Homo sapiens: one gene and its partners. The protein of the gene in region 4 interacts with the protein of the main gene of each other region in a biochemical or structural test. Each region holds a gene or a part of one and is shown on either strand. Other genes may lie near its edges. The genes, in order: GTF2B, HDAC5, ZNF366 and CTBP1.

Region 1 (7,694 bases), on a different chromosome or scaffold from region 4:
TGTTTATGTCATATATTGATTTATATTCATGCAGTGTCATGTTCAATTTAGGTATTTCCAACTTAATTTGCTTGATGATAGTCTCAGCAAAACAGAACTTTGCTCCTAGACTCTTCTACACCTGCCCTTGTTTGGTAATGGAATGGATTCTTCGCTTACAAGATATATTACACATTTAACCACAAATATCTATGAATGAGCCTACCGTATATTTTAAAATAAGTGTTGGTTATATTTTATGTTAGAAGAATCAGTATCAAAAAGAAATACTGTCATATATTATAGAAAGTAAGTTTTATTGGATATGTTTTTCAGATCTCAAGATTTAACATGGTGTTTGATACTAGTAAGTCAATAAAAGCAAAAACAAAATTAACTTCCTTTGGTTTGATATAGCAGAAAAGTACAAGCAAAAATTAGGAATTCCAAGCACAAGAAAGCATACAAGTCTTGTGAATTGTATCTTCCTTTTTCAGTTGATTAATCTCCACTGTCTTGCTGGTTAAAGTGGAAGTGAGGCTGGTGGGAAGGCTGAAAATATAATGGGATACTTTTACATTATTTAAAAATGGGCCAGGTGCCATAGCTCACGCCTGTAAACTCAGAACGCTGGGAGGTCGAGGCAGGTGGAACACTTGAGGCCAGGAGTTTAAAACTAGCCTGGACAACGTGGTGAAACCCTGTCTCTACTAAAAATACAAAAATTAGGTGGGTGTGGTGGTGCATGCCTGTAATCCCAGGTACTCAGTAGGCTGAAGTACAAGAATCGCTTGAACCCCGGAGGCAGAGGCTGCAGTGAGCGGAGATCGTGCCACTGCACTCCAGCCTGGGGGACAGAGGGAGACTCTCACTCCAAAAAAAAAAAAAAAAAAAAAAAAAAACGCTACAGAGGTTAGGAGAGCTAAGAAGCTGAAATTATCTTCAATCTCATGTATGTCTGTCTCACTCGTACACATTATCAGTTTGATCTTAACACTGTGGAAGAACTGGAAGGCTCTCATTTAACTGAAGGGTTAAGCAAACATTTTCTGTAAAGGGTGACATAGTAAGTATTTTAGGTTTTGTGGGTCAAGAGGCAAAATTCAGGATATTAAGTAGGTACTTACATGTCTACTAATGAGGAAAATAAAATTCTCTTTTGGGGATCACATTTCACTTAATTGGAGTTCAAAGTTAATGTTCTCTATCAAAATCAATGACAAATGTTCATGTGTCAATGATGTTGTGTTAACAAGATTTTATGTATTTCACTTTCTTTTCGCATAGACAAGTAATGCCAAATACCGATATTAATCCACAAGTGTATGATTTTAATTGAGCATATTTATTGCTTGGAAGGCATTCATAGAATTGTATTACATTCTTCTCCTGATAATGGCCTTTTAACATACTGTTACACTGCAGATTAGTCACTACCAACTGAAGGTTAGATGGAACCCCCTTAACTGTACAGTGAAAACAAATTTTGAAATATGAAAATTTCCTTTGCATTTGCATTCAAGTCTGAAAAACACTGCTGAAAATATAGCTTGAGCCTGGAAAATATATCTGCTGCAAATCTATGTGGTAATGAACATCCTATTTTAACTTCTGACACCACTGGAAGTATATAAAGTATATAAAAGCAATTTGACATTACTTATGATTCAAATGTTAACTTGTGAAATTGACTTTACTGCACTTTATGTTTCACAGAAAAGCAGTATTTTGCCTTGTAACTCTATGATGAATTCATTAAGACATATTAGCAAGTTTGCAGCAAAAGCTAATTTTCAAAACCATCCAGTGTTCAACAGCAGTAGCCGAAGGCAGTACTGATTCAGAAAAATCTTACTCTTGGCCCCGAGTTCAGAAAAATCACAACAAAACTTTGCTACTGCTAAGTCACCAGATTAGTGTGTCATTAAGACAAGTCACCCTAACAGTATTTTGTTAGAAATATTCAGCTTCTATTTCTAACAAAATGTCACAAAACTGGCTGAGCATGATAGCTCACACCTATAATCCCAGCACTTTGGGAGATCAAGGCAAAAAGATCACTTGAGGCCAGGGTTCAAGACTAGTCTGGGCAACGCTGTGAGACCCTATCTGTACCAAAAAAAAAAAATTAGCCAGGGTCCTGCTTGAGCCCAGGAGTTGAGGCTGAAGTGAGTCATGATCGCACCACTGCACTCCAGCCTGAGAAACAGAGTGAGACTCTGTCTCAAAAAAAAAGTCACAGAACTGATATTGATAGTTACGTGCACAAGAGTGAATGAAGTTCATTGTTCACAATTACTGGTTAAATAACACAAGGTAGATTAAAGTCTTCTCTAACAAAGTACTGCTGATGAATAATGTAATAGGCTTTTTAAACACCTTACGTTTTCAATCTTGGCAAATCTGTTCCACTAAGTCTTCTGCTCCACATATTTTTACCCTTATCAGTTATAATAAATCTTAGCAGATTCCACCTCAGGTTATACTGAATTAACACTTTTGCAACTGCTTTGAAGCTATTTTCTCCTATAGCTGTTCCATGTAGACTACTCACTGGAGCTAGTTCTTCTGTCAAGCTCAGCACTGACTTTTTTTTTTTTTTTTTTTTTTGAGACAGAGTCTCACTCTGTCACTTAGGCTGGAGTGCAGTGGTGCAATCTCGGCTCACTGCAAACTCCGCCTCCCAGGTTCAAACAATTCTCTGCCTCAGCCTCCCGAGTAAGCTGGGATTACAGATGCCCACCACCACGCCCGGCTAATTTTTGTATTTTTAGTAGAGATGGAGTTTCACCATCTTGGCCAGGCTGGTTTTGAACTCCTGAACTCATGATCCATCCGCCTCAGCCTCCGAAAGTGCTGGGATTACAGGCGTAAGCCGCTGCACCTCGCCCAACACTGACTTCTTGAATAAACAACTGCAAAGCAGCAATAACATTGATCTAGTCATCAAGAGCCAAGGAAAAATATACCTGAGCTAATTTGCCTTAACTTTTAATTGACTACTGATGTTGCTCCACTGTCCTCAACTCTTCAAGCAACTGTTCTTGGTGAGATGCTAACAGTCTTAAATAAATTTATTTTCTCTGCATACATTTCTTCAGCTGTTGCAATCAAATATGAATTAACCTATCATTGGTAAATGGCTTTCCTTGCTTGGCCAAGAAATAAGCCACTTAGAAACTTTAGTTGCAGCCTCAGTTTCATTCTTTTATTTTTGTGAAAAAATTCTGTTGTGTTAAGATATTCTATTTTACATTATTTTCTGACCATTGTTTTCCTGAGTTAGAAATATTCTGATGAGTGCTCAGTATGGTAATGTCCACGCTTACTGTATTCTTTTAACACAGCTACAGTATCATTGTGTAATAAACACAATGTTTTGCCATCTAATTCAGTGACAAAATAATCCATACTCCACCATGCCTTAAAAGCATGACATTCAAAGTTAACTTTTCTTGTTTTGGTGTGATGGATATGTAATGGTAATAAAAACAAATAAATAAAATAGTGCAGTATGGCAACATATGTGGCGATCAACATGTTGCTGTTATAACTGCATCACTGCAATTAGTATGCTGAGCAGCAGAAAAAAAGTGATGAGAGCTGCACATGTGGTTTCTGTTGAAGCTACTAAGCTCTGCTGTTGTAATGTGAAAAGAGTCATATACACTATGTAAACAAGTGAGTGTTGCTATATTCCATTAAAACTTTATAGATACCAGGCCAGGTATGGTGGCTTACACCTGTAATCCCAGCACTTTGGGAGGCTGAGGCTGGTGGATCACCTGAGGTCAGGAGTTCAAGACCAGCCTGGCCAACATGCTGAAACCCTGTCTCTACTAAAAATACAACAAGTTAGCCAGGTGTAGTAGTGGGCCCCTGTAATCCCAGCTATTCGGGAGGCTGAGGCAGGAGAATCACTTGAAACTGGAAGGCAGAGGTTGCAGTGAGCTGGGATCGCACCACGGCACTCCAGCCTGGGCAACAAAAGGGCAACAAGAGCGAAACTCTGTATCAAAAAAAAAACTTTGGCCAGGCGCAGTGGCTCACGCCTGTAATCCCAGCACTTTGGGAGGCCAAGGCGATCGTATCACCTGAGGTCAGGAGTTCGAGACCAGCCTGACCAATGTGGAGAAACACCGTCTCTACTAAAAAAAATACAAAATTAGCTGGGCATGGTGGCACATGCCTGTAATCCCAGCTACTTGGGAGGCTGAGGCAGGAGAATCACTTGAACCCGGGAGGCGGAGGTTGTGGTGAACCGAGATCACGCCATTGCACTCCAGCCTGGGCAACAAGAGCAAAACTCCGTCTCAAAAAACAAACGAAGAAAAACTTTATAGATACTGAAATTTGTATTTTCACATGTCCTAAAATATTATTTTTGATTTTTTTTAACCATTTAAAAATGTAAAAGCCAGAATTAACAAATAGGCCATATATAGGTTGTACTTTGACGACCCCAGATTAAAATTTTATTATTATGAAAGGCAATACAAGATAGAAATCTGCCTCCCACGCAGACAATGGAGCCAGTCTTCTAGACTACCTAAACGTCAGTTTCCTTATCTGTAAAATGAAGATAATGGTAGTACTCACCTCACAGGTTTGTTGTGAGGATAAACTGAGTGAATATGTAAATCATTTAGAATAGTGCCTAGTATATAGTAAACATATTAGCTATTAATATTCCTTACTCAGCAGAATACGGTTGCAAATGATTCTCAATTCCTATTAGCAACTCTATACTTTAAAACTCCCACTATAGGTCTGAGGCAAGCAGCCTTCTTGGACCAAGTAAGTCAAGTCCACAGTATGCCACTACTAATGCTTCTGTTATACTGCCCACAATCCTTCTAGAATTTTCATTCTTAAGTAATTCAAACTGCTAAATATTACCCCTATTCTCAGATGCTACAACTCCACCACAAGAATAATTTTTGAACAGACTATCTGTAGTCTAAAGTTCTGCTGCATATCTAGATTAGTGTGCAAGTAGGAACAAGGTGAAACTTTAAGTGTTATTTTTGGCAATAATTTTATACAAGATATTCATCAATAGATGACTGTATAAAAGTTATAATAAATCTTCTTTTTGACTAAAAGGCTTTAAGTGGGACTCAAAAATCATGTTTATCTACTTCCCAATGTATAAAAAAGCCACAAAAGTTTGATTACATGTATTCATTATTTAATATGCATGAGTGTCAGCCCATCTCTCCAGTCCTCTACCAAATATTTCAGACTAAGGACTTATGAAATTACTGGGGCCTTTTCGTTTCTTCTGGATTAGCTCCCACCCCACATTATAAAAATATACATTTGGATATACAATAAAATATATCTCTGAATAAGTTTACTCGTTTCTGTTTCCTAATTGTTTTTTTGCAATAAATTATTTGTTGGGGAAGAAAGTCAAAAATGTGTTCATTAAATGATAGTTTGGAAACTATGCAAAAGTGAAGGACCCTAAACATTATTATTATTATTATTTTTTTTTTGAGACGGAGTCTTGCTCTGTTGCTCGGGCTAGAGTGCAGTGGCACGATCTCGGCTCACTGCAACCTCCGCCTCCTGGGTTCAAGCCATTCTCCTACCTCAGCCTCCTGGGCAGTTGGGATTACAGGTGCCCACCACTACGCCCGGCTAGTTTTTGTATTTTCAGTAGAGATGGGGTTTCTTCATGTTGGTCAGGCTGGTCTCGAACTCCTGACCTCAGGTGATCCTCCCACCTTGGCCTCCCGAAGTGCTGGAATTACAGGCGTGAGCCACCATGCTTGGCCTCCTGAACAGTAATTTAAATTAAAACCATAATAACAACTCACCTACAACCAAGCCACATTCAGGACAGATCATATCACCGGCTCTGTAGTCCTCCACTAAAATCGCATCTGGATGGTTTGGACATGTGACTCTTGGAAGAGCATCCAAACTAAAAGAAAAAAGTTGTATTTTTACATCTTCCCAACCAACATGTATCAAATTAATCTTCTGGGATGGGGGATGGGGAAGACAAAGATTGTGAACGTTTTTTCATACATACAACTGTAACACATATAAGCTAGATTTTCAAAGTAAACATCCCAGTTAGGTTATTTTAAATTCCAGCTAGTAACTGGCAAGTAGTTTCCACTGGAATTCTTATTTTATTGTGGAAGGCTTTCAAAACATAAATAGAAAATAATTGTTTCTTCTCTCAATATGTATGCCAGTAAGACTTTTAGAAATGTTGATTAGTATAGTAATGACTAGTTACCGTAATAACCTGCAGCATTTACATTACCATCCAGTTTGTGCTCTTTGCCACTTATTTCTCTAGTCAGAGAACAATTTCTCTCTGTATTTTTCTACTTGTTAACTACTTTAGTAACAGATTTAAATAGTACACTGAACCCAGTAAGTATAGAAATGAGGGATGGTAGAAGTTGCTCTGCTGAACTTAAGACTTGATGATTTCCTTTAGTCCAGAATTGAGTTATTGAATTTATCATTCAAGAAATTGTTTCAAAAGCTACTTGTTATCTGTGATATTAATAATTAGCTCAATTTATTTTGAACAACAAAGCAGTTTGCAGAAGACACATTCATCTTTTTTTGACACATTAATCTTAAATGATCTGACAGAATCAGCTGTAAAAGCAACAAAGATTTGATCATTATTTCAGGGGGTATGACCTCACAATCATAAATTCTTGGTATCACTGCAAATAAGGCCCTTTTAAAAACCATCTGAAATACAATAAATGGTTAGGTTATGGACATCAGATACACGTAAAAGACAAAATCAACTGTTCTTATAGTATGTAAATAGTATTTGTGGTTTGGGGTAAAGTTTCTCATGCTAGCAAATACAATTCAGAATGTTAACTCTCAACTCAGAAGGTGATATCTACGGGAAAACTGATAAAATAATCCATATTCCCCCCTAAACTTATCTAGTCAGCTTAACTAGAATATGTCTTGAATCTTCTCATTGGGAACACGGGGGGATGAGTATTACTTCATATTTGTGTTTATTCCATAAATTCCTCTAAGGAAAGTATTTTAATAAATTATGACAAATAAAATTAAACAGTTGATATAAATTATGAAAAACCATGTTGAAATAAAGGAAAATGTTAGCAGAGTAACAGTAATTACAAATTAGTAAAAGAGGAGGCCATGTGCAACACGTGCTAAGAACTAATATCTCTGCAGTATTAAAAAGTAGATAGAAAACTATAGTTTGTGTAATGATACAGAAACATCTCAAAGATATGAAGAGTGAAGAATAAGGTAGAAAACCTATACAAAGCTGAAAAGTATGAACTAACCATACACCATAACATGGATGAACCTCAAAATACTAACAGAATCTAGACAGCAGAATACATATGCCATTTATGACAACTTTAAAGCAGGCCAAATGAATTGATGGAGTTAGAAATCAGGATGTGGTTTTCTCAAAGGAGGGGGAATGACTGAGGACAGAGACTTTGCTAGTGTCTTAGCTAGTGCTAGTGGTATCTGATTTCCTTACCTGGGTAGGAGCTATATGTATGTGCTCACTTTGTAACTGAGCTGCCCACTTTTAAAATGTGCTAACTTCATTAAAAAAAGGTAAAAGCAAGGTAGTGAATGGAGTTTAAATTAGGTCACTTTCGTGGGGGAAGAGAGGTTAGAACTATTCCTATACATTTGTTAAAGCATAAACACTAGGAAAACACCAAGAGACT
Region 2 (7,694 bases), on a different chromosome or scaffold from region 4:
CTCGTGAGCTGGGCAGGGCAGCTCCTGAGCCAGAGCTTGCTATTTTTCCAGCCCCTCGCATGGCTAGAAACACACAGCCCCAAGGCCAGGCACGGTGGCTCACGCTGGTAATCCTGGCACTTTGGGAGGCTGAGGTGGGCAGATCACGAGGTCAGGAGATCGAGACCACCCTGGCTAACACGGTGAAACCCCGTCTCTACTAAAAATACAAAAAATTAGCTGGGCGTGGTGGCGGGTGCCTGTAGTCCCAGCTACTCAGGAGGCTGAGGCAGGAGAATGGCGTGAACCTGGAAGGCGGAGCTTGCAGTGAGCCGAGATCGCGCCACTGCACTCCAGCCTGGGCAACAGAGCGAGACTCCGTCTCAAAAAAAAAAAAAGAAAAAACGAAACACACACAGCCCCACCCACTCAGCAACCCAGGCTGGGACTTCCCATGGAGGCAGGGTGGTCAGCCCTGCAGAAAACCAGAGGTCAGGATGGTGCTGCTGCTTGTTACTGAGGCCACCACTCCCAGGAGAAGGAAGGTTCTCAGTGCTGGGAAAGAGGAAAGTATAGAGCTGGGTGCGGGGGGCCCAAGGCTTTCCCCCAGAGCCTTGCCTCTGACCTCTGCAGGAGGTGGCTCTACTGGCCTCTCGATTCCCATCAGAGTGAAGTCCTGGCAGGTGAGGGAAGGACCCAGGTCCTTGTCCTCCCCTGTGAACCTTTCCCTGGCTTTCTTTTCTTTTCATTTTTTTCTTTTTGAGACAGAGTTTCACTCTTGTTGCCCAGGCTGGAGTGCAATGTCGCGATCTTGGCTCACTGCAACCTCTGCCTCCCGGGTTCAAGTGATTTTCCTGCCTCAGCCTCCCGAGTAGCTGGGATTACAGGCATGCATCACCACACCCGGCTAATTTTGTAATTTTAGTAAAGATGGGGTTTTTCCATGTTGGCCAGGCTGGTCTTGAACTCCTGACCTCAAGTGATCCTCCCGCCTCGGACTCCCAAAATGCTGGGATTATAGCCACCAACGCTTGGCTCTCCCTGGCCTTTCAGTGGGGCTCTTTGCTAGCCAGAGCTCTTGGCCTGTCCTCTTAGGGAACAGTGCCCCTTCGTCTACCCTCTTTTTTTTTTTTTTTTTAGATAGGGTCTCGCTCTATCACCCAGGCTAGAGTGCAGTGGCATGATCTGGGCTCATTGCAACCTCTGCCTCCTGGGTTCAAACAACTCTCCCTGCCTCAGCCTCCTGAGTAGCTGGGATTACAAGTGCCCGCTACCGCACCCAACTAATCTTTGTATTTTTTAGTAGAGATGGGGTTTTGCCATGTTGGCCAGGCTGGTCTTGAACTCCTGACCTCAGGTGATCCGCCCGCCTCAGCCTCCCAAACTGCTGGGATTACAGGCATGAGCCACTGCGCCTGGCCCAGGTTCCCTTTTTTTTAAGAGACAGCCCTGGGTAACTGGCCACCACGCCCCGGGCCTGTCTATCCTCTTCTTTTCCCAGAGGTTCCCCAGCCTTCCTAGTCCACCAGGAGGCGGCCAAGAGCCTCTTCCTATCATGACACAACCACTTCCCCTTCCAGGTGCTTGGTGCTGATGGCAACTGCTGCCACCTGCTCTGCTCATGCCAGGCTGGCAGAGGGCACAGATCCTTGAGAGAGTGCAAGGCCCGCCAGGCTCCAGGGTCTGTGCCTGGGCAGACTCTATTCATGGGGCTCCATGCCCCTCCTTTCCCTGACTCAGGCAGAGTAGCCATGGCCCCTTCCACTTTGGGTGGAGCAGGTTGCTACCTGGCAAACCCCTGGGGTGCTGCATGTCACCCAGTCCCTGCAGGTCCTGCAAATTAATATTCTGGAGTCGCCTGTGCTTCCTGTTTGCATGGGAACGAGGCTGCATGGCAGAGCCCTCTGCCTGCCCTGCCACCTGCATACCAATAGGGCTGTGGTTCCCGCTGCAGCTCCGGGCCTAACATCTCTGCTGCTGCAGTGGCAGTGACAGGCTGGTGGGAGATTCCCCTTGCCTGAGCCCATGTGCTCTCTGCAGGGCTCCTGCAAGGGAAGCCAGTACTGCTGGCGACAGTTCCAGCCCTAGGCAGGGTTATCTGCTGGGAGCCAGGAGTGCTTGGACCTCTGCCCTTCCCTGGGCAGGCAGGCTGGAATCTGGCTCCTACAACCCCGGCATTGCCGGGAGCAGCAGGTTGACGGCTGTCCATTGCTTGGCTGAGTGATCAGAGTGCCACGGGCCAAGCCAAGCTTGACTAAGAACAGATAACCCTCCGGCCAGCTCAGGGCCTTGCTGAGCACTTCACGGGCTGGGGAGACCTGAGCTGGCTGCCATTTCCTTGCCACCATCGTGGGCTGTGGCTAGTTACCTCCAGGAAGGCCTTCTGCAGTTTCCAAGGACCCTTTCTCCTGGTGCTGGGGCAGGACATGGGTTGGGAATGAAGATGAGTATGTGTAACCCCACCCTCTGGCCACATCTGGCCACTTCTGCACATGTGGCTCTGGCCTTGTGGCCACAGAGTCGTCAGTATGGCTGGCGGGAAAACCACAGAGGAATGTTCCCAACCATGCCTGGGGGAGAAGAGGCTGGTGGGGACTGCTACATCATGCTGAGCTTTTACCTTCTCCCACCCCACCCTGCCTGCAGGGGGTTCCAGAGGCCATACTCCAGGCATGTGGGTGGCATGGCCTTGGCCTCGGCCTCCAGCAGGCCTTGCTCCTGCCTTGGTGACACCCATTCAGTGCTAGGTTCTCTGGAGAGATCCAGACCCATCTAAACAGGTGTGGGGGCCTCTCTTAGCCCACCCTTTGCCACCTCCTACCTCCCACCTCCCTCTCTTCTCTTTAAAAATTGTTCGGCTGGGTGTGGTCACTCATGCCTGTAATCCCAGCACTTTGGGAGGCCGAGGCGGGTGGATCACCTGAGGTCAGGAGTTCGAGACCAGCCTGACCTACATGGTGAAACCCCGTTTCTACTAAAAATACAAAAATTAGCTAGGCCTGGTGGTGGGCGCCTGTAATCCCAGCTGCTTGGGAGGCTGAGGCAGGAGAATTGCTTGAACCCAGGAGGCGGAGGTTGCAGTGAGACTCCATCTAAAAAAAAGGCCAGGGGCAGTGGCTCATGCCTGTAATCCCAGCCCTTTGGGAGGCCGAGGCGAGCGGATCACCTGAGGTCAAGAGTTTGAGACCAGCCTGGCCAACATGGTGAAACCTTGTGTCTACTAAAAATACAAAAAAATTAGCTGAGCGTGGTGGCGGGTGCCTGTAATCCCAGCTACTTGCGGGGCTGAGGCAGGAAAACTGCTTGAACCCAGGAGGCAGAGGTTGCAGTGAGCCGAGATTGTGCCACTGCACTCCAGCCTGGATGACAAGAGCAAAACTCCATCTCCAAAAAAAAAAAAAACAAAAAAAAACCAAAACTTGTTTTTTGTTTTTTTTTTCCCTCTCTCGCCTCTTAATGCTGGGGGGTGGTCTGGAGAGAGGCCAGCTCATGAAGGCAGAAGATACTGGTAGCCAGAAGGATTTCGGGGTCCTTTTTTCTCAGGCCTGGGCTGGAGTGGGCCACTTTGCCACAGGAGTCTTCCCAGCCCCTCGTGACCTCCCTGGGCTGTAGCGAGGAGAGTGAGGGCTTTCTTTGGAGAAAGAAGTAGAAGAGAAACAGGAATGGGTTGGCCTGCCTCTCTCACTTCCGCCTTCCCAGGCAGTGGTATCCTGCCTTCCCCTTCCTGGCTGGAGACTTTGTGGGGCTTGGGCTGGGCTTGGGGCTCCCTGCTGGTGTGGTGTTTGCCCAGTTGTCCTGGCAACCACAGGGCAGTGGTGAGGAGTGACATGCAGTGACCTGAGAACTGTGTGTAGGTACAAAGAAGTGGAGACCTAGCCCTCCCATAAGCCCATTGGAACTTCGTGCACTCCCTGAGCCACTCGGCCCATTGTCCATGTGGGGACTGGACCCAAGGTCTTGGAACCCAGCAGGCCCTCCACTGCCTTCCCCTCCCCAGCAGCCTTCCTCTCCCCAGCCGGTTCTCCGTAAGACCAGAGTTCTGAGATCTCTGCCGAAGCTCCTGCCCTCCCCCTGCTGTTACCCTTCTTCCTGTCTGATTCCCTTTCCTTTCCTGTCTCCTCCTCCCACCTCCTCCCTGCTGCCTGCCCGCCCATCCTCTTATTCCCCCTCCCCCCAGGCACAGCTGCTGTTTGGCTCACTCTATATATAGCGGCATTTTCAGGGTAATTACAATAAAACTGTTGAAAGGAGATAATCCAGCAAAGGAAGCGAGTCTTGACTCCCAGCCCCCTCCTGTCCCTGGCTTGGTGCAGCCCTGCACCCCCTTTCCCCGAGGCCTCCTGTTCCCACCCCACCCCCATTCCCACAGCCTCTCCCTCCTGCCCAGTCTGCCCCAGATAGGGATGAGGCCCCAGAAGGGGACAGAGGGTAGAGATATCCAGAAGGTCTCCACCAGCCTCTCCTGGGGTTACCAAGGGCACTGTCAGTCCTAGAACCAACCTCTGTGCCTCAGTTTCTCTTCTAGTATGAGGCTTTGCATGGGGCACGGTGTTGAGAAATGGGAGCGGGCACAGTGGTTAAAAGCTTAGGATTTGGACTCATATTCTAGTTATTGGATCACCTAGCTGTGTCTGGTTGCTACTTAAACTTCTCTAAACCTCAGTTTCCTCATCAGTAAAATGGGGTAATAATAGCATCTAAGTCATAGGGTAACTGTGATATTTAAATGAGTCATTGTAAAATGCCCAGAGATGTTGACTATCAATGATAATATTATGTGTTGAAGGCTGGGCAGTGGCTCACGCCTATAATCCCAGCACTTTGGGAGGCTGAGGTGGGAGGATCGCTTGAGCCTAGGAGTTTAATTCAGCCTGGGCAACATAGTGAGACCCTGTCTCTACTAAAAAATTAAAAATTAGCCTGGTGCATTGGCATGCTCCTGTAATCCCTGCTACTTGGGAAGCTGAGGTGGGAGGGTTGCTTGAGGTCGAGGCTGTCATGAGCCACGATCATGCCATTGCATTCCAGCCTGGGCGACAGAGCAAGACCTTGTCTCTGATATATATATAGGTAGAGAGATAAATACACACACATATGTATGTGTGTGTGTATATATATATATACACACACATACGTACACACATATATATACACACACACACACAGATACATAAAATGCGTCGAGTAGTCACAATCTGTCAGGTACAGCTTCATGCTTATGCACATTTTCTTTATTTTTTTGAGATGGAGGCTCGCTCTGTCGCCCAGGCTGGAGTGCAGTGGTGCGATCTTGGCTCACTGCAACCTCCACCTCCAGGGTTCAAGCGATTCTCCTGCCTCAGCCTCCTGAGTAGCTGGGACTACAGGCGTGTGCCACCACGCCCAGCTAATTTTTTTTGTTTTTAGTAGAGACAGGATTTCACCATGTTAGTCAGGATGGTCTTGATCTCCTGACCTCGTGATCTACCCGCCTCAGCCTCCCAAAGTGCTGGGATTACAGGCAAGAGCCACCGCGCCCGGCCTCCCCCTTTTTGTTTTTTGTTTTTTTTTTTTCTGGAGACAGTCTTGCTCTGTCACCCAGGCTAGAGTGCAGTTGCATGATCTTGGCTCACTGCAACCTCCGCCTCCCGGGGTTCAAGAGATTCCCATGCCTCAGCCATCTGAGTGGCTGGGATTACAGGTGTGCACCATCACGCCCAAATAATTTTTGTATTTTTAGTAGTGAGGGGGTTTCATCATGTTGACCAGGCTGGTCTCAAACTCCTGGCCTCAGGTGATCTGCCTGCCTCAGCCTCCCAAACTAACCTGAGATTACAGGTGTGAGCCACCGTGCTCAGCCTGTATTTTCCTATTGAAGTTCATGGCTTCAGCCTCATTTAATTAAGGTAAAATGTTGCATCCATGGAGCAGAGGGATTTGACTTCCTCTCTGTCTCTGTTCTCTTTGGGTCTCCTAGAATCCTGCGTGGTAGCCTTTGGGCCTCAGGCATGACTGGAGTCTGGGGCTGGGCCCACTAACTCCTTCCTGTCTCTTCTGCCCACAGTGGAGGTGAAGCCGGTGCTGCCAAGAGCCATGCCCAGTTCCATGGGGGGTGGGGGTGGAGGCAGCCCCAGCCCTGTGGAGCTACGGGGGGCTCTGGTGGGCTCTGTGGACCCCACACTGCGGGAGCAGCAACTGCAGCAGGAGCTCCTGGCGCTCAAGCAGCAGCAGCAGCTGCAGAAGCAGCTCCTGTTCGCTGAGTTCCAGAAACAGCATGACCACCTGACAAGGCAGCATGAGGTCCAGCTGCAGAAGCACCTCAAGGTGAGCGAGGGGGGTGCGGGGGGCCGCCCAGACCTCCGATCCCCGCCCGGGCCTGGCTCACTTGTGCCTCCGTTCCCATGCCCCTGCAGCAGCAGCAGGAGATGCTGGCAGCCAAGCAGCAGCAGGAGATGCTGGCAGCCAAGCGGCAGCAGGAGCTGGAGCAGCAGCGGCAGCGGGAGCAGCAGCGGCAGGAAGAGCTGGAGAAGCAGCGGCTGGAGCAGCAGCTGCTCATCCTGCGGAACAAGGAGAAGAGCAAAGAGAGTAAGGCAGGGCCTCCTGGGACCTCGTAGGGCCCCGCCCGTGATGCCTGCCCCTGCCATGGGGGGTCTGGCCCCAAGCAGCCAGGTCAGTTGTGCCCTGTCCTGCAGGTGCCATTGCCAGCACTGAGGTAAAGCTGAGGCTCCAGGAATTCCTCTTGTCGAAGTCAAAGGAGCCCACACCAGGCGGCCTCAACCATTCCCTCCCACAGCACCCCAAATGCTGGTAATGGCCCTGGGCAGGCATGGGTGGGCATAGGTGAGCCGCTCAGGGGCTGCCTGGCTATAGGATGGCAAGGGGCTTCTTCCCCGTGCCCATATACGGGCCCTGCAATCTCTCCTTAGAGACAGGACCCCCATCCCTGGTTTATTTCCTCATTCCTTCCCCAAGATCCACGTCCTCTTCCTATATACAAACGATTTTTCATAAATGTAGATTGCCAGGTGGCAGGTCCAGCAGACTGGGTGATAACCTAGATCTGCTTCCATCCCCACCCCCCCCCCACCCCAGGGGAGCCCACCATGCTTCTTTGGACCAGAGTTCCCCTCCCCAGAGCGGCCCCCCTGGGACGCCTCCCTCCTACAAACTGCCTTTGCCTGGGCCCTACGACAGTCGAGACGACTTCCCCCTCCGCAAAACAGGTGAGTGAGTCCCCCACCTGGCCTCCCAGAATATGGCTCCTGGGAGGCAGAGGTGGGCTTGTGGCAGTGTCAGCCCTGACCCCAGTGGGCTCAGCTGCAGATGTGTGCTGCTGTGCGCGTATCTGAACCTCGGTTACCTTCTCTCCAGCCTCTGAACCCAACTTGAAAGTGCGTTCAAGGCTAAAACAGAAGGTGGCTGAGCGGAGAAGCAGTCCCCTCCTGCGTCGCAAGGATGGGACTGTTATTAGCACCTTTAAGAAGAGAGCTGTTGAGATCACAGGTGCCGGGCCTGGGGGTAAGGGCTGCTCTCATGTACCTGTTCTGAGGGTCTGGGAATCAGGGGTCGGGGGTAGTTCACAGCAGGCCCAGGTGACAGCCACTTCTCCTATAGCGTCGTCCGTGTGTAACAGCGCACCCGGCTCCGGCCCCAGCTCTCCCAACAGCTCCCACAGCACCATCGCTGAGAATGGCTTTACTGGCTCAGTCCCCAACATCCCCACTGAGGTACAGGCC
Region 3 (7,694 bases), on a different chromosome or scaffold from region 4:
CTCATCATGGTTTTAGTTTGCATTTTCGTAATCTAACAATATTGTATATCTTTGATGTGCTGATTTGCCATTTCTATATCTTTTTTAAGTATTTATTCAAAATTTGTGTCCATTTTTAAATTGGGTTGTTTCCCTTAAGAGTTTTAAAATATGTATAAAACAAGTCCTTTATCAGATATTCTTAAAACAAGTCCTTTATCAGATATGTTTCACAAATATTTTCTCCTAGTTTGCCGCTTGTCTTTTTATTTTTATAACGGTATCTTTTTCTTGAAGAGCAAAAGTCTTTAATTTTGATAAAGTCTAATTTATTAATGTTTTCATGTATTTCATGTTTTGCGTCGTAACTAAGAAATCTTTGCCTAAGCCAAAGTTACAAAGATTTTCTCCTGTGTTTCCCTATAGAAATATTAAAGTTCTAACACTTACATTCAGGCCTATGATCTACTCCAAGTTAATACATGTGTATAGTGTGAGATAAGAGCCAAAGTTCATTTTTTCTTTTGTTATGGATATGGAATCGTTTCAGTACCATTTGTTTAAAAGACTATTTTCCCCTCATTGACACCTTTGTCAAATCAATTGAACATATACTGAGAGTCCATTTCTGGACTCTATTATGTTCCCTCATTTAGTAGGTCTGCACAATATTCCATTGTACAGATGCCCTGTACTAATTTAACCAGTCTGTTATTAATGGACAATTGTGCTATTTCTAATTATTTTCTGTCCAAATAATGCTGTGGCAGATACATTGCATTGTAGGTATGTCTTTTTACATCTTATTTATATAGGATAAATTCAAGAGGAGTCAATGTTACATTTTGATAGACATTCACAAATTGCTGTCTGTAGATGTTCTGCTAATTCAGTTACACCAGAAATATCTGAGAGCTCTCTCCAGAACCCCAGAGATAAGTGTGTTAACAAATGTTTCATCTTTGCCGATCAAGTAAATAAAAATTGGTATCTCATAGTTTTAATTTGCTGCTTCTTATTATGAATTAAAATATCTTTTATTTTGTGCATGTTTATAAGCCAACTATATTTCATTTTATGTGAAGTATGTGTTTCATGTCATTTGCTCATTTTTCTGTTTATACTAAGCTCTTTGTGATACATGTTGCAAATGCTTCCTCCATTTTTTGTTTTGTTTGTCTTTTGGCTTTGTTTATTGAGTTTTGGCCCTGCAGAAGCTTTTTATTGTAATGCAATAAAATGCATGATAAATGTTAAGGCCTCTGCGTAAAACTAGAAAGGCCCTTCCTACTCTGCGATTCGAAAAAAAAATATCTCTACAGTTGTTATGTTTTCTTTAAGACTTTTTAAAGCAAAATTTTAAGTTCACAGTATATTTTTATTTTTAACATTTTAAGTCTTTCATCTATCTGGAATTTATTTTAATTTAAAAAATCAAGTAGGAATATAAGTTTATTTTTTTCCCAAATAGCTACCCAGTTGTCCCAATCTCATTAATTACATAATTCAACTTTCTCCGCTGATATACATGTTATTTTTATCATGTACTAAATTCCCATATACATTTTAGTTCACTGATCTGCCATCCATTCATGTGTCAGTACACACACTCAATCCTCTATTCTCTGACTCCAAGTAGCATTCTTTCCTGCGTTACTCACATTCTCAAAACAACACACAGTAAGTGAATGAAGTGCTTTATGAATTGCTAGTAGTAACACTTAAATCTTCTCTCATTTTCTCCCTGCCCCCACTAGCTAACAATATTCAAACTCTTTTTAACATCACTAAGAAAAATATAATTAGGACAGTAAATCTGTTTGGAAGTTTAAGAGATTGAACATCAGATACTACATTCTTGAGTCAAACAATTTGGGGCTAACCCATTGGCTCATAATCTTTTATAACAACCAGTGATTTTGGGTAGGCAGTGTGTGTATGTATACACAAGTGTAAGGTACATGTACCATGTACCTAGCGATAGCACTTCAGCAAACCACTGCTCCTCCCAAAATATCCATATTGCTTGAAGAGCAAATACATTTGGCATTTTATGTCCTAATCCTTCTGAAATGGGATTTTCTCACCATTAAATGTCCTTCCCAACTGCATGTATTAAAGATGTGATGCTGAAATTTCTCTCCTAGGAGACTCAAGGGGGAAAAGAGTCAATGTCAGTCATTCTAAATAGTGGGATGTGTCTGAACATATGGAGGATGTGAAGACACATGGAATGGGACTGCCTTCTGCAAAATGATGCAGTTTTGAGCAGAACTTTGTTACCCACAAAACTGGTGTCTCTATTCCTTCACAAACATCCCCATTTAGATCTGAGGCCCAGGCTGCCACCAGAAGAACTCTCTGCCCCTGGAGACTTCTCCCCAGCCAGAGACAGGTGATTGTGCCATGAAATCACTGGGTGCTAGGAGGGCTGCAGACCATGTTGGAGGAAACGCCTGCTTGCCTGCTGCATCACTGATTGTTTCCTGAATATCAAGAAAGACGATGCTGGGAATAGTCCCTCCTTGCCCAGATCTCTGAAAAGCCAGGTAGGAGGTGAGATTCTGGATATGCCTGCCAGCAACCTTTCAGAACTTTTCACATATTCCTCACCCTAAGAATTCAAATTCTAGCACTTCAGGAATCCTGCCTTTTTTTTTTTTTTTTTTTTTTTGAGACGGAGTCTCGCTCTGTCACCAACCCCGCCTTTATAGATTAAGCATAGAACTCTTTGGTACCCTAAAAATGTTCAATATATAGATTTTTTAGGATAATGCTAGAAGACCCTTCTTTGTACTTAAAAAAGAAAAAAACAACTGAAAAAGTTCTCTGGAAGTAGGGGTGAGAGGAGGAAATTCCACCGTGTCGTGGGAAAGAAAATGCCTGAACTAGAAAAACAGCAAGAAACAAGTGGTGGACACTATGGAGGTAGGCGTTCCATTAAACAGCGCTGAAAACCTGAAATTCCTCATCTCCCTGCACTTTCCATGGAAGGTGGCCAGAGGGCCTCAGTCACGGGAGAGATGCCATGGGCTCCATCCAGGCAGAGGCCCCATTTTGTCCAGGCTTCAGCAAACCAGAGGCGATTCCGGTCCTCTCCCTCGCTCTCTTCCGGCGCTGCTTCCTTCCCCCACCCCTCCAACAATAGTCTCCTCTTGATTTCTGTTCCAAGAGAGAACGGTGAGTCCCCAGTGCAAAGGAAACTCTAAGGATTCTTTCCACAGAGTTTTCTCACTGGGAAGAGGGAGGCGTGTGGACTGGCGTCTCCTCTTTGGCTGTGATGCTGGAGAAGCGGGTCCTCCCTTTCTCCCTGAGGAAGACACAGGGCAGACAGCAAGATTTCTCATCCTTATTCTCAAGCATTCAAAGGAAGAAAGCGGCAGAGTACGTTTTCTTCCTGGAAGAACTCTGCGGTGCCCTAATGTGTGCACTATGGTTTTAAATGTTTTTTTCAAGCTACTGAAAAAAGCTAAACTATTTTTTAGGGTAATCTGCCTGAAATACTCATCACTACCCTCCCTGGGGGCTTCCTTACCCTGAGCCAGCAGCTTGAATAATAAGCAGAGCCTTGGTCCCCTCTTCAGCTTTGTTAGATCTGGGGAAAGGCCTAGAAATCTGCCCCAGGTAACTCTGATGATTGGTGCTCAGAAAGCACCTGAAAATAATACCCTCGCCCTTTCTGAGAGTGCTAGGATCCCATGATATGGAGTTAACTTCATGGGAGAGATCACAGAAATCATGCCTACTGTTGCTCAGAGCTGAATAGATTGGAGACTTGTCCAGTAATGCCACTATTTAATAGGGAGGTATGTTGTCTTGGACAAGGTCAAAGTTAACAAATGGCTTTGTAACTCCTTGGAATAGAGTCCTACATTCCCTGATCAATCTGTGTGCAACAGTCCAAAACCATAAGGCAGTGCTGCTCAGACTTGAATGTGCAACTGGTCACTTGGAGATCTTGTTAAAATGCTGATTCTGATTCAGTTGATCTGCAGTGGAGCTGGGATTTATTCTGCATTTCTAACAAGCTCCTAGGTGGTGCCATGGTGTTGGTCTTTGGACCCCATTTGAAGGCTACTACCTTAAAGGATACATATTTGTTTTAAAGAAATTATTAGCTACAGATGACACTTTTTCCTTATAAGGAAACTGAAAACAAGCAACATTAATTTACTGACCTTGAGCAAATCACGTACTTTCTGTAGTTTATCTGTTAAACAAGGTGGTTGCCTTTCTTCAGCTCTAAGATGAGGAGAATAAGGCACGTACTTGAGAATGGGGTAAGTGAAATGAAGTATCTAAAGTTCTGAGGAGGCCCCAAACCTAGTAATGACTCCTCCATAATTGTTGGCGCTGGTGGTGGCAGTGCCGTTGTTGGTAAATCACTCTCCCATTTAGTATCAGTGGCCATCAAAGAATGAGGTCAGAGTGGGGCCATAATCTATCAAAGGAATATAGGAGAATTGCCCAGTATTCTCTTTGTGTGCCCTGGTACTTGACACTAAAGAGAGATTCTATCAATGTTAATAGAGAGTGCCTTTTCAGTTTCTACTCCAATTAACAGACACCTAGAACCCCAATGTTGTTAAATGTAAAAAGCATCATCCAAAATCCCAACTTTTGTTACTAGGTGTTTAGATTTGCCACTTTAAATTTGCCAAATAAGTATAAAACTGACTCGATCCAGTGGTTTTGGCCTTCTTCAATTGGCTTGAATTAAAGAAAGGAAAGGGTATTGTGCTCAACAAGGGTATCACATTTCTCTCCCTGAATTTACCCCATGGTGTTTTGTCAATTCAGCCCAAGTGGCATTCCTTTAGCTTGGATTCACAGCCTTTGCCTATAACAAACCAGAGAGCTGAACACTTCCTACAAGGCTGGATCCTGGCTCACAGCTCTTTTAGTCAAGGAAAAACAAATGACCGTTCTCTGTCTCGCCAAAAACAATTTGCAAACCCATCATCTGCCCAGAAAATAAATGGAAAATAAAATGCAACAACAGTCTTTTCTGTGTATCTATCTGATAAATGTTAATTTCCCATGAACAAATGGGTGGGGGTGCTTGCCAAGACGACATTTTAATACACATGTAGCAGCCCCATGCACACAACAGCAGAACAAGCCCATATAGTTCCAGTCAATTCAGGTGAGGGATAAATCCATCAAGCTGGCAGTTTGGCATTGTCTAGACTCCAGAAAAGTTTGACTAACTTTTTTTTTTCAAATTAATGGCTTCATTTGGCATTGTATAAAGATAGCATCTTTCATTCTACAGCCCACTGATTCATTAACTCATCTATTTAACAAATATTTATTGTGCATCTATGACAGGCTCTGTGCTATTGTAGGCCCTGGGCAGACAGCAGTGGACAAAACAAAGTCCCTGTCCTCATGCTGCTTCCTTTCTTGTGAACTTATGTATTACACATAACGCTGGATGAAGACATGTTCTTATTCTTTTATGTAAATACCATTGTTTTATGTAAATGTATTTGGTTTTTGAATAGTCTAAAAGAACAGCCTTCATTAGGCTAGTTGTTTCTGAGGGTGCACATTAAAATTATTTGCTGTCTCTATGTTCCTGTCAGAGGGAGATCTGTGTCCATTGCTGCTTTATTTCATTATCCATATAAACATATAAGAAAAAAATGAGTGATTTAGGTAAAAACTCAATCAGGAAATTTAGAACAACTTTTTCTATAAGGTTTATATTTTCCTTATAATTGAAGCATACAATATGACCTGTGAATGCTGATTTTTCAAACACCATTATCAATCTTTTTGCCTTTCTACATCACCATTAAATTAGGGACAAGGATCTAACTTGTAAAATAGGCTCATCACAGCACACGTTGTAAAAAAATAAGAAACAAAACCTTATGAGATAGAATCTACTAATATTTTTTAAAGGGAATAGAAAAAGCTTAGTATCTGTGTTTTTCTTGATTAACAAATACATGCTCACTCTAAGATGCAAATAATATAGAAATGGATAAATCAAAAAGTGCTATTCCACCGGGCGCAGTAGCTCATGCCTGTAATCCCAGCATTTTGGGAGGCCAAGGCAGGTGGATCACTTGAGGTCAGGAGTTCGAGACCAGTGTGACCAACATGGTGAATCCCCATCTCTACTAAAAATACAAAAAATTAGCCAGGCGTGGTGGCGGGCAGCTGTGATCGCAGCTACTCGGGAGGCTGAGACAGGAGAATCACTTGAACCTGGGAGGCGGAGGTTGCAGTGAGCCAAGATTGTGCCACTGTACTCTAGCCTGGGTGACAGAGCCTGACTCTGTCTCAAAAAAAAAGTGCTATTTATATTGATTTATAATGTTTACAGATCTAAGTAATTGATCTTGTGATTTACATATGGTTCTAGAACACTGATCATTATCATCAGATTGCTCAACCGGCTAGGACATTCCTTATTCCATAATACTAATAGCTTCTAAAATAACATTTGATATACTCAGAACTATCTTCTAGAGAGAACATCCAGTGCTGAATAGGAATTCCATTTAAAAGCATGGCTCTTAAAACGAGCATTTACAGTTAATGTTAATGCCATCCAGAAGAAGACGGAGCAAGACACTGACCATCTGTTTTGGAGAATCACAGCATGTCAGCAAAAGGGTCTCACAGATCATCCCATGAAGTGGACAGGGCAGGAGGAGACTATAAACAAGCCCGTAGGTGAATTCTAATACACACACACACACACACACACACACGCACACCTCGAAAATTACTTATTTATCCCATTTTGTCATTTCACAGATGAGAAAATTGAGATCCAAGCAAGTAAAGCAACCTGTCAAGTCATGCATATAGGAAATGCAGAGATTGGATGAGAACAGCAGTGTTCTGACTCCCAATCTGGTCTTTTTCTACTCCACCAAGCCACATGAGAGGGCACCTTTTGCACGTTAGTGCAGAACAACTCAGCTTCGATTTGTCCCTAAGGTTAAGTGTCCAAACATGTCTCTGTTGTTTCACAAGCTCTCAGTCTAACAAAAGGACCTGAATGGCTTTGGTTATTGGTGGTAGATTTTTTGTTATTCTTGCTGTTGTGTGTTTTGCTTTTGGAAAGTGGAGAGAAATTTAACTAAGACCTAAGTAAAAGTATCATTATTACTTGACAAACTAACGGTCATACAGGTTTTAAAGTTTAGAGTGAAAGAAAAATAGCAGTTGGATCAATCAGGCACCACACACACACATGCACACACGCACGCACACACGCACGCACACACACATGCGCGCGCACACACGCGTGCATGCACACACACACGCACACCCATGGTGATATATAGTGTTCTGTTTCTCTGTGTGAAGGTGAGTGGCTCACTGTTACAATGTTTGAGGAGAGAGAACCCCAAGTGTGCTCAGCCCTGGGCAGGAGGAGAATGTGTCACTTTAAGTCCTTTCCTCTTTAGCTGAGTCATGGTACAACCACGATGGTCTCCAAAAAAAGTGTCTCCAGCCCTCCACAACCAGGGAAAAGGTCACCAATAACACAGAGCTCAAGCAGTTGGGGAAGTGGGTGAAAGGGAGAATAAAATGTCCACAATATAACTGAACTCTCTTTGCACGTTCATCTAAGTTGAAAACTTTTATCCCGAGACAAACTTTCCCCTGCATTGAGCTGTGTTGAATACAGCTGCATTCAGTGAAGCTAAATCTGCCATTTCTGCCATTCGTGAAGATGAATATCAATA
Region 4 (7,694 bases):
AGGAGGTGGTAGAGGCAGCAGGCAGTGTCATACGGGTTCTGTGGTTGAACTGCATCGCCCAAGGGAACGCTGGTCGGAGCGCCGGGTGGAGCGCCAGGGTCCTCTGGTGGTCGCTGGATGTTGGTAGTTGTGGGTAAGAGCTCTGTGCCGGGAGTGTCTGGACCCCCGGGTCCTCCATTGTCAGCTGCAGTGGCCGGAGCCCACTGCTCTCCCCCGCACTGGGTCGTGGTAACCCACAAGGTGCCACCTGCGTCACTGACCATCGTTTCCAGAAGCCCCTCCGGCCACACATTCCATGTGGTATCTCCCACAAGGAAATGTTCGTTTTTTTCCCTGTGAAGCCAGAAATTTCTTGGTGGCTCTTTGCCGAGCCAAACGTTAACCTTGAGTTGTCTCTCTGGGCGGCCCCAGGTGGTACCAGTTCTCACGGGTGTTGAAGGAGAGTGAGGATGGCCCTGAGGGAAGCCCAGTTGGTTTGGTTGGGGAGGCGTTGGGGCTATGGCCCTGAGAGAGGTGTGGGCGGTGTTGGGACCAGGCCCCTTCTGCACCCTCCCCTGGCACCGCCGTTAACTCTCCAGGCCTGGTGTGGCCCAAGCCACCCTGCCTACCCGTGCTACCCTACCCACACGTGCCACCCTGACCTGCTTGTGCCATCCTGCCCGCCCGTGCCACCCTGCCCACCCGTGCCACCCTGCCCTGCCGCCCGTGTCACCCTGCCCGTCCATGCCACTCTGCTATGCCGCCCGTGTCACCCTGCCCTCCCGTGCCACTCTTCCCTGCCGCCCGTGTCACCGTGCCCTCCTGTGCCACCCTGACCTGCCGCCCGTCTGTGGTGTGGGGGCTCCTGGGCTGCCCTGTCTGCGTGGCTGGCAGGAGCCTCAGAGGCATCCGAGGCTGTCTCTCCAGTGGTGTCGTGTGTAGACTGTGTTGGGAAGGGGAGGAAGGTGTAGCCCTGATACCCCACATGTGGTAGGAGCCAGGAAGGTGGCGTTCTGGGGGTTCCTGGAGCTCACAGGTTGTGTGCATGTGCTCGCTGAACAAACAGGGAAACGTGCGGCTCCACGGATGTCCTGGAGAGGAATCTTGCTGGCAAATCCATGCCTTTGATCACAGCCCCTGCGCTGTGTCCTCTGAGCTGTGATGCGGCCCTGCAGGCCCCGTGGAGTGCGGTGGCTCCCTGGCTCACAGGGATGCTGCCGTCCAAGGTGCCGTATCGGCTCGTGGATGACTTGGGCAGTGTCTGTCTGGGGTGCTGTCGTCGGAGGAGCTGTTTCAACCTGTGGGTGACGGGCCTTGTCTGTCTGGGGGAGGTTCTCTTGGCCCCGTGCTCTCAGCCCAGTGGCTCCATGCTGCTGTGCGGCTCCCTCTTGGGGGCCTGCCTTCTCTGCCATTGCAGGGCAGGGCCTCAGTTTTCTCTGGGCGGCAGGTGGCTGTATCTCAGGACTGGAAGGCTCCGGGTCAGGCTGTGCACAGCCTTCGTTCATGTCAGCCCCTGGCTGGGCAGCACCGCCAGGCCCTAGTCTTTGGGCCTCCAGGCCTGGACAGCCAGAGGGGGCATCTCACCAATGCCCAGATGGCTGCCGGGGACTCACGGCAGGGCAGCTTTGTCACGAGAGGGCCACTCGAGCCCGGAGTAATCAGGGCTTATGGGGACAGGGCAGGGTGAGGGCCGCTGAGACCACCCAGCCTTAGGGTGCCCTTCTGGTGGTCGGGGAGCCCTTCCTGGGCAGCGGCTTTAGGGGCTGCTGTGGGGAGGGGGAAGAAGATGGGGTTGGTGAGGAGGAGCTTTTGGGACACTGTCCTGGTGGAGGTCGTGAGGGAGGGGAGCGGACCGGTTGGCCCAGCAGGGCTGGCCAGTGGAGGGACGTGGAGGGTTGGTAGCTGCCGAGCCTGGGTCTGAGCAGGCGGGGATGAGGACCAGGTGCTGAGGCTGGGGAAGGAACAGGGGTAGCTGCTTGGTCCTGGCGCATCTTGGTGCCCCCTGGGACTTCCTGGAACACCCCCCCCCCAGTGCCCAGAGACCCACTGTGGCTGTCTGGATCGGGGCAGGTCCCAGCCCATGGTGACCCCCAGTGTGCCGGGGCAACCCGGTCCCTCTCCAGACCAGAATGGACCGATGCCCAGCACACACGTGGATCGGGGCGGAGTGGGCAGGCGTGGCCAACAGGAGGGAGGATCCGGCAAGCAGATGGTGATGTGCATCCAGAGACAGGGCGTTGACATGTGGCCAGGAGGCTCTGGGGTCATCGGGCCGCCACCGTGCAGCCCCCCGGGACTTGATGCCTCCAGAGAACCTGGGGGCTGCTGCCCCTCACCTCACCCCCATTTACTTTAAAATCAGTTTTTGTTTTAGAGCAGTCTTAGATTTACAGGAAAATAGGAAGCACAAGCTTCCATGTGCTCTACACTCACTTCCCTCGTGGGTCCCTTGAGTGCTTTCTTACAACATGAGGTTAAGCGTCTGCAGGGTGAGAAGCTGGAGACTGTCCTCGTGTCGCTGGGCTGAGAGCCGTGTGCGGCTGTGAGTTTTTGATGAGGAAAAGCAGTGTGGGTCCTGGATTTGGACAGCACAGGCCCCTCTGGGAGCCGTGTGCCTTCACCTCGGAGTGTGTGGGCAAGGTACAGAGCTGGAGCCCTTGACCCTGACCGGCCAGCCAGGAAGGCCGTAGGAGGCCAGCTCCCTGGCGTGAGGTGCGCAGGGCCTCTGGCATTGCCCTAGGTGAGGGCTCCAGGACTCGGACACTGGCTCTCAGTGGGGCAGGTGTGGCCCGGCAGGGGGCGCTTTGTGGGTGCACAGTGGCCCCAGGGTGGTGCAGATGGTGGGCAGACCTACCCCAGGGCTGTTTCTGAGACAGAGGTCCCTGGAGGAGAACCAGGTGCTGGGCCTCAGGTGTCTGTCCTGAACTGGAGCAGCCTTGGAACAAGGAACCACAGGAAGTCCCTGTGGCATGGGGTGCAGCCCCTCAGGTCTGGCAGGGCTAGCCCAGGGAGTGCAGGGCCCCAGGAGCCCTGCCACAGGTTCCTCAGCTCGGGAGCTCACGGCCTCCTCACTGCAGGGTCCTTTCAGGAGGGCCAGGGTGGCCTTCACACATCTGCTTCTTCCTCAGAGACACAGGTGTGGGCACGTACTGGCCAGTATAGATAAGCATTGAGCAGCATTGATGGGTATCGATGATCCTCCAGGAGCAGCGGCTGGTGCCATGCTGCTGTGGGCAGTATTGAGTATTGGCCGGTCTTGACGAGCAGCAGCCGGTACTGGGCCACCGTGGGTAGCATTGATGAGTATTGACTGGTATCAATGAGTATCAGCCGGTATCAATGAGTATTGGCCCGTATCAATGAGTTTGGCCAGTATTGATGAGTATTGGCTGGCATTGATGAGTATCGGTTGGCGTTGATGAGTATCGGCTGGCATTGATGAGTATCGGCTGGCGTTGATGAGTATCGGCTGGCATTGATGAGTTTGGCTGGGCGTGGGTGGCGCGGTGCCTTGCCCCCTGGCCAGGCTGGCTCGTGGGTGAAATGTGACATTTAGGCGGTTTTCTCCTGTCCTTTTAGTTTGTTTTTATGTGGTATCCGGGTACCATGGGGAGATCTGGCATTCAGGGCAGGAGGCTGCAGCGCAGGTCATGGGGGCTCAGGCGCAGGTGATGGGGATCCCGCTCCACAGTGTTGCTCTTGGGCCCTCCGTCAGGGAGTCCCACACAGCACCTGCCATGAGGAGTGGTGTTGGGGACCCTGGATGGGAGGTGCGTGCGTGGGGCTGCACCCCAGCCCCTGTGATGGTGTCTCTGGAAGCTGGAGATGGTCGGCATGTATGCTTGAATCCTGCAGAGGGAGTTGAGGGTTGGAGATTTGTCTGCGAGGCCTCTGCGCAGGGGCGGCCTCACAGCACACTACCAGGGTCTTAGGCTTGGCTGAGTGGCCCCTTCTGGCCTGGCAGGCAGTCGTCTCAGCCCACGCCTGCCATGCTGCTGGGCTGGTGGTGGCCGGCTCCTGTCCTGGTCAGCCTGATGTCAGCTGCACGTTGGGGTCAGCCTCGGTGCTGTGTCTTCATGCCAGAGCAGGGGCCAGGTGTGGGCAGCTCAGTGACACCCTCCCGAGGGCTGGGCGATCGTGTGCACTCTCAAGCCTCTACTGGAAGGCTTGGCCCTCTCAGGGGCCCCCTGCCCCTGTGCATTCAGCCACTGGGGTTCGTGCCCTCAGCTTCCCGCCAGGCCCTGGCCGTAGCGGTCAGGAAGAGCTGAGCAGTTTTTTTGGGAGAATTGAGGGAGCGTCGCCAGGATGCACTGAGGGTCGGAGGTGGAGCCGGCGCGGCTCAGTGCAGGCAGTGCCAGGCTGGATGCTGGAAAGCCAGCAGCACCTCTCCCGGTGGCTCCTGGGAAGTTCCACGTCCTTGCCTGGTCACAGAGGCCCGGGAATCAGTGACATGAGATAGAAGCTTCCAGAACAGGAGGCAGAGCCTTTCCGCAGTTTCCCTGCCCACAGCACACACCCTGTGCCCTCCGTCCCCTGGTTCTTGGACACTGGGGACATCTGGATGCGGCTAGAGCCTGTGGGGGTGGCCGCAGCCCTGGGGGACTGTTCCCAGGAGTAGGCCTCGGGGCCACAGGGGCGCGGCCTCGGGCCTGGCACTGCAACCTCAGGGTGAGCGCCCTTCGTGTGTGCGGCAGGAGCCGGGGCCCCTGGCTGTCAGCAGGCCCCCGAGTCCAGGTAGGTCCCAGACAGCAGTCCCGGGTGTGGCAGATGCAGTGAGGTCCACTTCTGAGGCGTTCCCTGGAGTCTGTGAGTTCTGGTCGGACCTTCGATGGCATTTTAATGTGTCTCTTGTGTTTGATTTTTAGTAAGACTTTGACCCCGACGCAGGCTTCAGTGATTGCCGCGGATCAGAAGCCTGAGCACTTTGGCTCGAGACAATTAAGGACGTGGGATGAGGCTCCGAGACAGGACGCGGTTCTGCCTGGGGATCCTGAAGATAAAAAGCTTTGAAAAGTCGAATTCATGGTCGTGGAAGCTGAGCCCATATTAAGAGATGTCAGGTTGGTAGGGGTTCCTGGCGTCGGCGGCAGAGTGAAGCCGGCCGGTCTCTTTGCGACCGTGTGGAGGAGGCACTGCCTCGGATCAAGTCGAGGGACCTGGGCTGCATGGGCGTCGGGCCGGACTGCTGCCACCTGACCCCCGGTGTGCTCTGGGCGAGGTCAGGTGCCCCTCGAGGGAGGGCTTCCTGCACACCTGGTGGCAGAGCACAGCTGTGGTCAGGCCTGTCCGTGGCATCTGCTGTCTGTTTCTGTCGGAAAGTGTCTGAGAGGCACGGAGGGCCTCCATGTGGAGGCCGCCAGCACGAGGGTGGAGCCCCACACGGAACCCTGGAAATCTCAGGTGTCCACCCGGCTGGCCCAGGAGCAGGGCCGTGGCCCCTGTGGAGCTGTTCCTTGTGGTTGGTCTGCGCTCTCTGGCCCGGAAGTGCGTGCAGTCGGAAACAGCCTTGGGCTTGGGGGATGCTGCAAAGCCTGCTTCAGCACAGGCCGTGTGACTGTGAAGCCTCCTGGGTGTGTCCCCAAGCCTGCAAGGGTGGGCTGTCCGGGGAACCCTGGCACGGTGGTCAGGGGCAGCTCATGGGTGATGTGAGGAGGCACCTTGGGTGCCTGAGCCTGATGGGGCTTGGTGTCTCCACCTGCTCCCCCCTCCCCACCGTTCAGCTGAGGGACCCGGTTCCCACTCACCCAGCACCCGGGAGTCCCCCACGCGGTTCCGACGAGGGACCCGGTTCCCACTCACCCAGCACCCGGGAGTCCCCCACGCGGTTCCGACGAGGGACCCGGTTCCCACTCACCCAGCACCCGGGAGTCCCCCACGCGGTTCCGACGAGGGACCCGGTTCCCACTCACCCAGCACCCGGGAGTCCCCCACGCGGTTCCGACGAGGGACCCGGTTCCCACTCACCCAGCACCCGGGAGTCCCCCACGCGGTTCCGACGAGGGACCCGGTTCCCACTCACCCAGCACCCGGGAGTCCCCCACGCGGTTCCGACGAGGGACCCGGTTCCCACTCACCCAGCACCCGGGAGTCCCCCCAGGCGGTTCCGACGAGGGACCCGGTCCCACTCACCCAGCACCCGGGAGTGCCCCACACGGTTCCGACGAGGGACCCGGTTCCCACTCACCCAGCACCCGGGAGTCCCCCACGCGGTTCTGACGAGGGACCCGGTTCCCACTCACCCAGCACCCAGGAGTCCCCCCAGGCGGTTCTGACGCAGCCGAGCGGTCTGCAGTGATCCCGTGTGTCCATGCCTTCCTCATCAGAAGTGAAATCCAAGGATACTGAGAGCGGATGTCTATCCACTCACTCAGAAACAGCAACATAAACCTTTCTGCTCATGAGAAGTCATCACCACCACACACAGCGGGGAGGGAGGCCACGTGCAGAGGGAGGCCATGTACAGTGTCACTGGGCGGCCTGTCTATGGTGCTCGTGGGCAGCTCCCGTCCAGAGGGAATGAAGGAACAGGCGAACCAGGACGCGGTTTTGACCGTGCAGACCTCACGTTTGGGATCTGGTTTCCTATCTTGAAGGAAAGTGGGTGGAATGGCCAGTGGCTCCTCCGAGGACGCCAGGGCGCGAGGACCTCACGGGAGGGGCATGGGCCCAGCCGTACTGGGAGCCCTCGGCTTTGGGGTGGTCAGTGGAGACCCATGCCCCGTCCCCTGCAGGCGTGTGCTGCAGGCCCACTGCACCCCTGGGCTGTCCACCAGAGCATTTCTTTTCTCTGCCATGGGTTCCAGGAGGCACTTCCCTGCTTCCTGGATACTGGCAGCTCGGTGGCCTCTGCTCACCTGCAGGCGGATGGGGCAGCGGATGGGGCGGGAGACTGGGCCGAGCGTGCTTGTGGCCGCGGCCACTGGAGAGCCTGCTGGGTCACTCTGCTCCTTGGTTCTGTCGTGCGCCTCCCCTCCTGCTGGCCGAACGGTCCTGGGTACTGCTTGGTCTCCTGTGGCCGGTCTTTGGAGGAGGAGGGGAGGGACCGGCTGGGCCCTGGCCCCAGCTCCGCCTCTGCCCAGCTGCCGTGGGGCTGACAGTGGCCCCACCTGGTGCTCCCTGCCTGGCACGGGGCGGTCGGGCGGTGCCTGGAAGCTGCCATGCTTCTGTGACGCCTCAGAGCCCTTATTTCTCCAGTTGGCCCCGATGAGGCTTAGTTGCGTCATACGCGAAAGGAATGGGTGTTAATGAGCTTTAATCATCTGGTTCTGGGAAGGTCAGGGGCACAGAGTGGACTTTAACAGGTTTTAACCCTTTTCTTCCTTTGTTCTGTTTCTTTTCTCTTCACATCTATAATTGGAAGTAATGCCAGGCAGAGGGTTGGGGGCGTCCTACGTGAAACACTGGTGACCCCATCAGGGATTCCGGGCAGCCACGCGGTAGCCCAGGCAGGAAAGGGACAACCATGTTCCCAAAGTCCCGTGCTGTCATCTTGTGTCCTCCAGTGTCCTGGGTCCCTCCTGTCCCCCTGCCTCATGGAGCTGCCCTGGGGTCTCGGACGGTCTGGGAGGGTCTCGGGGGGTCTCAGAGGGTCTTGGAGGGCCTAGGAGGGTCGGGAGGTGTCTCGGTGGGTCTGGAAATGTCTTGGGGAGTCTCAGAGGGTCTGGGAGGTTCTCAGAGGGTCTGGAGATTTCTTGGGGGGTCTCGGAGGGTCTTGG

What was found.
Region 1: the proteins of CTBP1 (region 4) and GTF2B form a complex in vitro, tested with the Homo sapiens proteins (one study listed by BioGRID).
Region 2: the proteins of CTBP1 (region 4) and HDAC5 form a complex in vitro, tested with the Homo sapiens proteins (one study listed by BioGRID).
Region 3: the proteins of CTBP1 (region 4) and ZNF366 form a complex in vitro, tested with the Homo sapiens proteins (one study listed by IntAct).

What each region holds. Positions count from the first base shown.
Region 1 is NC_000001.11:88,881,457-88,889,150, forward strand, and holds part of GTF2B (transcription initiation factor IIB), read right to left. Parts: intron 5,912-7,694; coding exon 5,805-5,911; intron 1-5,804. UniProt on the Homo sapiens protein: General transcription factor that plays a role in transcription initiation by RNA polymerase II (Pol II). Involved in the pre-initiation complex (PIC) formation and Pol II recruitment at promoter DNA.
Region 2 is NC_000017.11:44,092,163-44,099,856, reverse strand, and holds part of HDAC5 (histone deacetylase 5), read left to right. Parts: intron 1-6,022; coding exon 6,023-6,282; intron 6,283-6,371; coding exon 6,372-6,543; intron 6,544-6,650; coding exon 6,651-6,765; intron 6,766-7,050; coding exon 7,051-7,181; intron 7,182-7,329; coding exon 7,330-7,476; intron 7,477-7,572; coding exon 7,573-7,685; intron 7,686-7,694. UniProt on the Homo sapiens protein: Responsible for the deacetylation of lysine residues on the N-terminal part of the core histones (H2A, H2B, H3 and H4).
Region 3 is NC_000005.10:72,496,850-72,504,543, forward strand, and holds part of ZNF366 (zinc finger protein 366), read right to left. Parts: intron 1-7,694. UniProt on the Homo sapiens protein: Has transcriptional repression activity. Acts as a corepressor of ESR1; the function seems to involve CTBP1 and histone deacetylases.
Region 4 is NC_000004.12:1,238,670-1,246,363, reverse strand, and holds part of CTBP1 (C-terminal-binding protein 1), read left to right. Parts: intron 1-4,844; 5' UTR 4,845-5,032; coding exon 5,033-5,039; intron 5,040-7,694. UniProt on the Homo sapiens protein: Corepressor targeting diverse transcription regulators such as GLIS2 or BCL6. Has dehydrogenase activity. Involved in controlling the equilibrium between tubular and stacked structures in the Golgi complex.